2 separate regions of the Homo sapiens genome follow, and region 1 is linked to region 2. Evidence: fine-mapped expression QTL. A gene starts in region 2. The other region holds a variant in brackets. All regions are shown on one strand. Distances are between the middles of the regions. Region 1 overlaps MRGPRF (MAS related GPR family member F). Region 2 holds the start of MRGPRD (MAS related GPR family member D).

What was found. PIP is the estimated chance that this variant, and not a neighbour inherited with it, causes the effect.
Region 1: its variant is the best candidate, but not a certain one, in a credible set for the expression of MRGPRD in esophagus muscle (GTEx, PIP 0.83).

The regions. Positions count from the first base shown.
Region 1 is chr11:69,003,246-69,007,630 of GRCh38, reverse strand. It overlaps MRGPRF (MAS related GPR family member F), which reads left to right. Exons shown (of 3, transcript NM_145015.5): 3 at 1,370-3,233. The coding sequence ends at 2,353. Among named protein-coding and RNA genes, the nearest start is that of MRGPRF-AS1, 6.9 kb to the left of the region's middle. RefSeq lists enhancers at 1-12, 3,259-3,760. The variant C/T (reference allele first, on the strand shown) is at 1,696.
Region 2 is chr11:68,979,097-68,983,481 of GRCh38, reverse strand. MRGPRD (MAS related GPR family member D) reads left to right here and starts at 2,496. Exons shown (of 1, transcript NM_198923.2): 1 at 2,496-3,461. The coding sequence starts at 2,496. The coding sequence ends at 3,461. RefSeq lists an enhancer at 3,007-3,516.

The DNA.
Region 1 (4,385 bases), 24 kb before region 2:
GTACAATGCCCGCCAATACCTCACCTCAGCTCAGTCATCGTTAACCCTTCACCACAAGTGCTTTCTCTCTATCTCTTGACAGATAGGCTTTTTTTCCCAGAATGATTTGAAAGTAAATTGCAAGGCTGGGTGCGGTGGCTCACGCCTCTAATCCCAGCACTTTGGGAGGCCAAGATGGGCGGATCACCTGAGGTCAAGAGATCGAGACCAGTCCGGCCAACATGGTGAAACCCCATCTCTACTAAAAATACAAAAATTAGTCAGGCATGGCGGTGCGTGCCTGTAGTCCCAGCTACTCGGGAGCCTGAGGCAGGAGAATTGCTTGAACCTGGGAGGCGGAGGCTGTAGTGAGCCAAGATCGGGCCACTGCACTCTAGCCTGACAAAGCAAGACTCTGTCTCAAAAACAAACAAACAAACAAAAGTAAATTGCAGACACCAAGCCCTTGATGCCCAAATAGCCTGTATCTTCTAAGAACAAGGACGTTCCCGTAGCCACATAGTGAAAATGTGCGTAGCCACAGTACATTGTCACATTCAAAAGCTGCAACACCGATGCAATGCCATTATCTCTGCATCGTCCATACTCACATTTCCCCAGTGGTCCCAACGATATCCTCTGCAGCAGTTGTTGAGATCCAGCGTATAATCCAGGATTCTAACACTGTGTTTAGGAGTCATGTCTCTTTGCTCTTCTTAAAAATGGAAAGGCTCAGCCAGGCGCAGTGACTCACGTCTATAATCCCAGCACTTTGGGAGGCAGGTGGATCACTTGAGGTCAGGAGTTCGAGACCATCCTGGCCAACACGGCGAAGCCCCGTCTCTACTGAAAATACAAAAATTAGCCGGGCATGGTGCCGCGTGCCCGTAGTCCCAGCTACTCAGGAGGCTGAGGCAGGAGAATCGCTTGAACCTGGGAGGCAGAGGTTGCAGTGAGCCGAGATCGTGCCACTGCACGCTCCAGCCTGGTGACAGAGTGAGACTCTGTCTCAAAAAAAAAAAAAAAAAAAAAGGGAAAGGCTCTGCAGTTTTTTGTGCGACTTGGACGTTTTTTGGACAGTCTACTCTGACCGGTGGGCAGCCTGGCACCCTTCCTGGGCACTGTCTGGTGCTACCTCTACTCCTATAGGCACCATTGTGTGCTGCTAGCTCTAGACGCTGGGACGGAGAGTTAACATCAGGTGAGGTCAGGGGCGTTTGAGGATAGAGTTGCAGCCAGTTAGCTGCTCCACAGCCACTGCCTTACAGACCCCCTCCCTGCCCCAAGTCCCTAATTGGGACCCCCCCCCTCCCCCACGCTGGGCCCCAGATGCAGGTCTGTGGGTGGGGGCCAGCCGGCATCACAGGTGTCCCTCTCTGCACCTGCGCAGATGTGCCCTGGCCTGAGCGAGGCCCCGGAACTCTACAGCCGGGGCTTCCTGACCATCGAGCAGATCGCGATGCTGCCGCCTCCGGCCGTCATGAACTACATCTTCCTGCTCCTCTGCCTGTGTGGCCTGGTGGGCAACGGGCTGGTCCTCTGGTTTTTCGGCTTCTCCATCAAGAGGAACCCCTTCTCCATCTACTTCCTGCACCTGGCCAGCGCCGATGTGGGCTACCTCTTCAGCAAGGCGGTGTTCTCCATCCTGAACACGGGGGGCTTCCTGGGCACGTTTGCCGACTACATCCGCAGCGTGTGCCGGGTCCTGGGGCTCTG[C/T]ATGTTCCTTACCGGCGTGAGCCTCCTGCCGGCCGTCAGCGCCGAGCGCTGCGCCTCGGTCATCTTCCCCGCCTGGTACTGGCGCCGGCGGCCCAAGCGCCTGTCGGCCGTGGTGTGCGCCCTGCTGTGGGTCCTGTCCCTCCTGGTCACCTGCCTGCACAACTACTTCTGCGTGTTCCTGGGCCGCGGGGCCCCCGGCGCGGCCTGCAGGCACATGGACATCTTCCTGGGCATCCTCCTGTTCCTGCTCTGCTGCCCGCTCATGGTGCTGCCCTGCCTGGCCCTCATCCTGCACGTGGAGTGCCGGGCCCGACGGCGCCAGCGCTCTGCCAAGCTCAACCACGTCATCCTGGCCATGGTCTCCGTCTTCCTGGTGTCCTCCATCTACTTAGGGATCGACTGGTTCCTCTTCTGGGTCTTCCAGATCCCGGCCCCCTTCCCCGAGTACGTCACTGACCTGTGCATCTGCATCAACAGCAGCGCCAAGCCCATCGTCTACTTCCTGGCCGGGAGGGACAAGTCGCAGCGGCTGTGGGAGCCGCTCAGGGTGGTCTTCCAGCGGGCCCTGCGGGACGGCGCTGAGCTGGGGGAGGCCGGGGGCAGCACGCCCAACACAGTCACCATGGAGATGCAGTGTCCCCCGGGGAACGCCTCCTGAGACTCCAGCGCCTGGAGGAGGCAGGGGCAGGAAGCGGCCTCCAAGACCCTTCGCCTTGGGACAGGAATGGGCACCTGCTTCTGAGTCCATACAGGAGAAGAAAGATCTGTTTCCTCTCCTCGGGCCTCCTTCTCCCTGGGCTGGGGACTCCAGGGGTGGCTGGGAGACTGGGCAGCCACCAGCAAACAGACCCTGTGGCCCCTGCCCGGCTCCCCCACCCATTCTGCTCCCCTAGAGACCTCTTGTACAGAAGTTGCCCCCAGGTGGTGGGGCCCCTCCTTGCCCTAGGCTGGTTGGTAAAAGAGAGGAGGTCAACACCCAGCCTAGCCACCTCTGCCTCTTGGGTCAGCCCTCCTTGACTGTGTCCCAGCCAGCACCAGGCCAGCAGCCTCATCCCTGCCATTCAGGGCTGTTCCAGAGATTCGATCCTCTTAAGGCATTATCAGTGAGCAAATGTGAAGGAAATGGTGTCTGGAAGAAAGTTCTGGTTCACATGCCTTGTAGCTAAGTCTTTCTGCAAACAACCTCCCTTCCCCCCGTCGAGTCATTTGGTGACTTTGATGGGGGGATTTCTGGTTATGTCAAGGCTCTGGAGACAGGAAGGGCCTTTGGCCGCCTTGGGTAGTTGACCTGCCTTTTCTGACTCCGGGACGAGCCAGTCCTAGGCTGCCTCCGGGAGCACTTGAGGTATCCCGCAGGCCATGAGGACCCACTGGGCAGCTCCTGGACAGCCTCTTGGCTCCAGCCCCCACCCGAAAGTGGACACTGGCTCCGCCCTGGCCACCTGGGGACTGGCACTGTGGTGCACAGTGGCCCAATGTGGCCAACGGAAGTTTTATAAAAGACAAAATGTATATCAATAAACATTTTATAACTTGCAGCCAGGAAGGCTTCATGCCCACAGTCCTACCCTGGGTCTCTGTTTCCGACAGTGAGGACGCCCAAGGGCACAGAGTCCCGGGACGGGTGGCACCCCCCGCCAGCTCTCCCGCACACTTTGCTCTTTGCCTCTGCTCTCAGGCCTCCTCCTGGGGCTGGGTCTGCACACACCCGTGTTCCCGCTCCTGTGGCTTGTCCACTCCCTGCCAGAGGGAGCCGTGGTCAGCCAGGCTGTCCTGTGCCGGCGTATCCCAGTGCCCCTTCTCAGCTCGGAGGCCCCCACGGCCTCTGGGAGCCACAGCTCTCACCTCCTCCATGCCAGGCTCTGGGCCGGCCACCATGGTCCTGCCTGTGTCCACCGGAGGCTCCGTGGAGTGGATTGCTGCCTCTCCTCCTGTTGCCCCCGTTCAGGATGCCCCTCTCTGTCTTGAGATCCCTGAGCCAGCCTCCCAGTGCCCAGACATCTCTCTACAACCCAGCGATAGGCTGGGAGCCCTCCCAAGATGACAGCCCAGCCAGCGCCACGCTAGAAGGGTTCCTGCCTGGCCCTTTTGCCTCTGGTCAGCCCCCAGAAGGGCCCCATCCTGGGTTCCTGGTGTGCAACCTAGGACCCTGGCTCCTTTGAGACAAGCCTTAAGGCAAGCCTGCTCACCCCATGGTCCCATGGAGAGAGATCATGGCAGAGGTGTTGGTGCCCCCAGTCAGGAAACGTGGCTGACAGAGTTGGGCCCCTCGTCTGCAGAGCAGAGCCAGGAGCAGGCAGGCGGGCAGCACTCCGAGCTCCAGGTGGGAATGAGTAGAGGCGTGGGCAGTACCACCAGGTTCACGCACCCAGCCACCTGGAACGTGGCCTTCTAACTGCAGGCCCTGGAGCCTGCTCAGCCTGCCCCTGGTGAAGTGGTCCAGCCCTCAGTGGGCTGACCCCCCAGTTCTGTGTCCCTGATGATCCACTGCCCGGCCAACCTGACCTCCACTGCCCTCCTGCCCCTGCTCCTCAGCCCACTGCTCCTCCATGCTCCCCTTTCTAACAATCCTGGTCAGGTCCTCTCAGCAAGACCACCGCTCTAGGAAAAGAGGGGATCTCATGTGGCCCAGATGTCGTAGTTCCAGGACCTCTAGGTGATGAAGGTTGCATGTCCCCACCCGCTCCCTC
Region 2 (4,385 bases):
TGAGGCAGGAGAATCACTTAAAACCAGGAGCTGGAGGTTGCAGTGAGCCAAGATCGTGCCACTGCACTCCAGCATGGGCAAAAAGAGTTAGACTCCATCTCAAAAAAAAAAAAAAAAATTCAATGTTATTATTAATTATTTTACAGGATGTAAGAAAGGATTTGAGAACAGAGAGACATTTCAGACTATGGACATAATGACTTAACATTGTGAATGTGACAATTCTCTAATACAATATTCTGCAAGTTCTATGAGCTTCTACTGAAAACTTGAGAGTTTCTTTCTTTTAGGAATTCCAAAAATTTGCTCTAAAATTTTAAGGAAGAATAAAGATTCACAAATGGCTAATTCAATTTTGGCAAACAAAGTTAAAGAAGGGACATGCATCTCATAAAATAAAATGACATAGCAGAAAGACATATTTAAAAAAAAAAACAAAACAAAACACTGTGTTAATGTTGTAGGAACTGAGAGACAAACCAATGACACAGAATGAAGAATGAAATTAAAAACCCAGTCCCATGTGTAAATGAGAACTTAATAAGTCAATAGGGAAAGGACAGACTGTTTAGGAGACAGTGTTAGGAAAGCTGATCCATACTATGGAGGAAAAATCAAGCTCATAAAAAATAGATTCCAGTTGGATCCAAGAACAAAATCTGAATGGGAAAAACTATAAAAGTAATAGAAGAAAATAGAAAAGACTACATTTTTTATCCAGGGAGACAGAATACTTTCAGATTTAGAAGACACAAAATTTCAGAGAAAAAAATTCTGAAGAGTTGGCTATACCAAAATTTAGGATGTCTTCCAACCAAAGTTCACAATAGATAAAGTTGCCATAAAAAACAGAGCGTTCTCAGAGAAAAGTATCTGCAATGTCTAAATCCAGGAAGGCATTAATACCTAGAAATACAAGCAACTCTTGCAAATCAGAAAGGAAAAGAAAAGAAACCCAATTGAAAAATGGACAACAGGTGTGAACAGACAATTTGAAGAAGGGGAACTCCAAATGGCTAACAGATATATGAATTGATGCTCAAACTCACTGTAATCACAGAAATGCAAGTTAAAACATCTACAGTATATCACTTTGCAACCATCAGGTTGGCAAAAGTTAGAAAAACAAATAACACCAAGTGTTGGTGAGAGAATGGGAAAACGTAAACATTCCTATTCTGCTGGTACAGGTGAAACCTGAAGCAGCCACTCAGAAAAAGAATTACCAGGCAATATTTAGTGAGACTAAATGTGCATATGTTCTATGACCGAGCAATCCTCCTCCAAGAATGTATCCCAGAAAAATATTGAGTCAAGTCCAATGGGTACATGCATGAGGATGTCCAACACAGTGTTTTGGTGATAATGGGAATTTTGAAGCAAGCTGAGGATCCACAGTAAGGAATGGATAACAGATCAATGTGCATGATGACATTTTAAACCACAACTTTTGCATACAGCCACCTGGATATATCCTACAAACATATTGTCAAGTGAAAAATAAAAAACCCATCATTAATTCTAAATCACAACATTTACGTAAATTTAAAACACAATGGGCAACCACTCCATCTTGAAAGATATTGAGGTGTCCAAGGATTTGCGTGAAACAGGTTGGATGGATGCAAGCGGCAGGAGGAAAAAGGCAGCTAAGATGGGATGGGGAAGGAAACTTGAATAAATGGAGGGTTTTTAATGGGCTGATGCTCATGGTGTGTCTTAAACTAAGGAGTGTAGTTAATTCTACACTTTGCCCTGAGGTCTAATTTTTTTTTTTTTTTAAGAGACAGCATCTCGCTCTGTCTTCCAGGCTGGGGTGCAGTGGCGGGACCATGGCTCACTACAACCTCAATGTGCCAGGCTCAAGCGATCCTCCCGCCTTGGCCTCTCAAGTAGGTGGGACCACAGGTGTGTGCCACCATGCCTGGCTAATTAAAAAAAAAAATTGTAGAGATGAGATCTTGCTATGTGGCCCAGGCTGGTCTCAAACTCCTGGCCTCAAGCAAACCCCAAAGTGCTGGGGTTACAGGCATGCACCACCACGCCCAGCCCTAAGGTCTATTGTTTTTTTAATTAACTCACAGGGTTTGACAATTACAGGAGAAAAAAAAAATGATTTCAAATGTTTCTATCAAATAGTTTTTCTACATCTATTGATAATAATGATTTTTCTATAATAGATGTAGAAAAAGCATTTGATAAAATTCAATACCTCTCCATGATTTAAAAAATAATTCAAAGCAAGATAGAAGAGAATTTTTTAACCTGATAAAGGGTATTTATAACAGCTTTGTAGCTATAAAGGTGACCCTGGAGGCAGATCTGGGCTGAGTGAGTCACAGGAGTGGGGGAAGGTTAAGCCTCCCGGTCATGGTCTGTTACATAAAGAACCTGGAGGGGAGAGCTCTGAAGCTGGAAATTCGAGGGGCACCCAGGGGTCCCCCGTGGTCCCAGCAACACAGAATTTCACATTGGTACATCTTCCTCTCGTAGGGATGAACCAGACTTTGAATAGCAGTGGGACCGTGGAGTCAGCCCTAAACTATTCCAGAGGGAGCACAGTGCACACGGCCTACCTGGTGCTGAGCTCCCTGGCCATGTTCACCTGCCTGTGCGGGATGGCAGGCAACAGCATGGTGATCTGGCTGCTGGGCTTTCGAATGCACAGGAACCCCTTCTGCATCTATATCCTCAACCTGGCGGCAGCCGACCTCCTCTTCCTCTTCAGCATGGCTTCCACGCTCAGCCTGGAAACCCAGCCCCTGGTCAATACCACTGACAAGGTCCACGAGCTGATGAAGAGACTGATGTACTTTGCCTACACAGTGGGCCTGAGCCTGCTGACGGCCATCAGCACCCAGCGCTGTCTCTCTGTCCTCTTCCCTATCTGGTTCAAGTGTCACCGGCCCAGGCACCTGTCAGCCTGGGTGTGTGGCCTGCTGTGGACACTCTGTCTCCTGATGAACGGGTTGACCTCTTCCTTCTGCAGCAAGTTCTTGAAATTCAATGAAGATCGGTGCTTCAGGGTGGACATGGTCCAGGCCGCCCTCATCATGGGGGTCTTAACCCCAGTGATGACTCTGTCCAGCCTGACCCTCTTTGTCTGGGTGCGGAGGAGCTCCCAGCAGTGGCGGCGGCAGCCCACACGGCTGTTCGTGGTGGTCCTGGCCTCTGTCCTGGTGTTCCTCATCTGTTCCCTGCCTCTGAGCATCTACTGGTTTGTGCTCTACTGGTTGAGCCTGCCGCCCGAGATGCAGGTCCTGTGCTTCAGCTTGTCACGCCTCTCCTCGTCCGTAAGCAGCAGCGCCAACCCCGTCATCTACTTCCTGGTGGGCAGCCGGAGGAGCCACAGGCTGCCCACCAGGTCCCTGGGGACTGTGCTCCAACAGGCGCTTCGCGAGGAGCCCGAGCTGGAAGGTGGGGAGACGCCCACCGTGGGCACCAATGAGATGGGGGCTTGAGAGCCGCCCACAGGTGCTTCCCACCTGTGCGAGCCCATGCCCTGGAGATTCCCGAGCCGTGAGCTGCCTCCCACCTCGTCCCTGCCAAGTGTCTGGCCCGCCTTCTTGGGGGAGCCCCAAGGACTTTGCAGCTGCATGTGGGGGTCACTTCCCTGCATGTCAAAACTCCCCACAACACCTGTGTCCTGGATCTCACAATGCAACCCCGCTGGAAGATGCAATTTATTTGTTTATAGCAGATTATCTGGTTGGGGGAAAATATTAGCTTTTAGCCCTACCCTGCTTTAAGCTGGTTATCTATGGGTGGATAACAGGAATCTCATTTGAATATGAAAGCTTTCTCCCAACCACCTTCTCTGCCTAAGACGGCATCTTTGTGGAGGAGGCAGGTGACCTCGGGTGATCTTTGGCCCTATGCTGGTCCTTGGGTGGCATCAACTGGCCACCAAGGTGGTGCCCCCGTGCACCTTTCCCCAGGTGTGCCTGAAGTCTGGCAAGTAAACGGTGTCGCCATCGCCGACCCGGATCTCGCTGGCTGTGGGCCATGAGACTCTGCCCCACCATCCCTCTGACCCCTGGCCAGCCCTTGACCCCTGGCATTTGCTATGAGGTCGCCTTACCCTGTCACCCCTCGCACCCAGGGCAGGCCTGTTCGCTTTCCTCCAGGCCGCACTGGGAAGGGAAGAGCCTCTGCCTGGCTTCACTGGCAGTCACTCCAGCAGATGCTGATAGGACAGTGCCCCAGGCAGTGGAGGGCAGCCTTCCAGGCAGTGTCCCCCAGAGCCAGAGTCTCATACCTCACTGACTGTCCCTCCCAGGGCCCCCTCACTTTGCCCAAAAGCCCAAAGACGGAACATCTGGGACACACATCAGCTGGCTCCACTCTCCTCCCTCCCCCTTTCCTTCCCACAGTCCCCTGGGTCC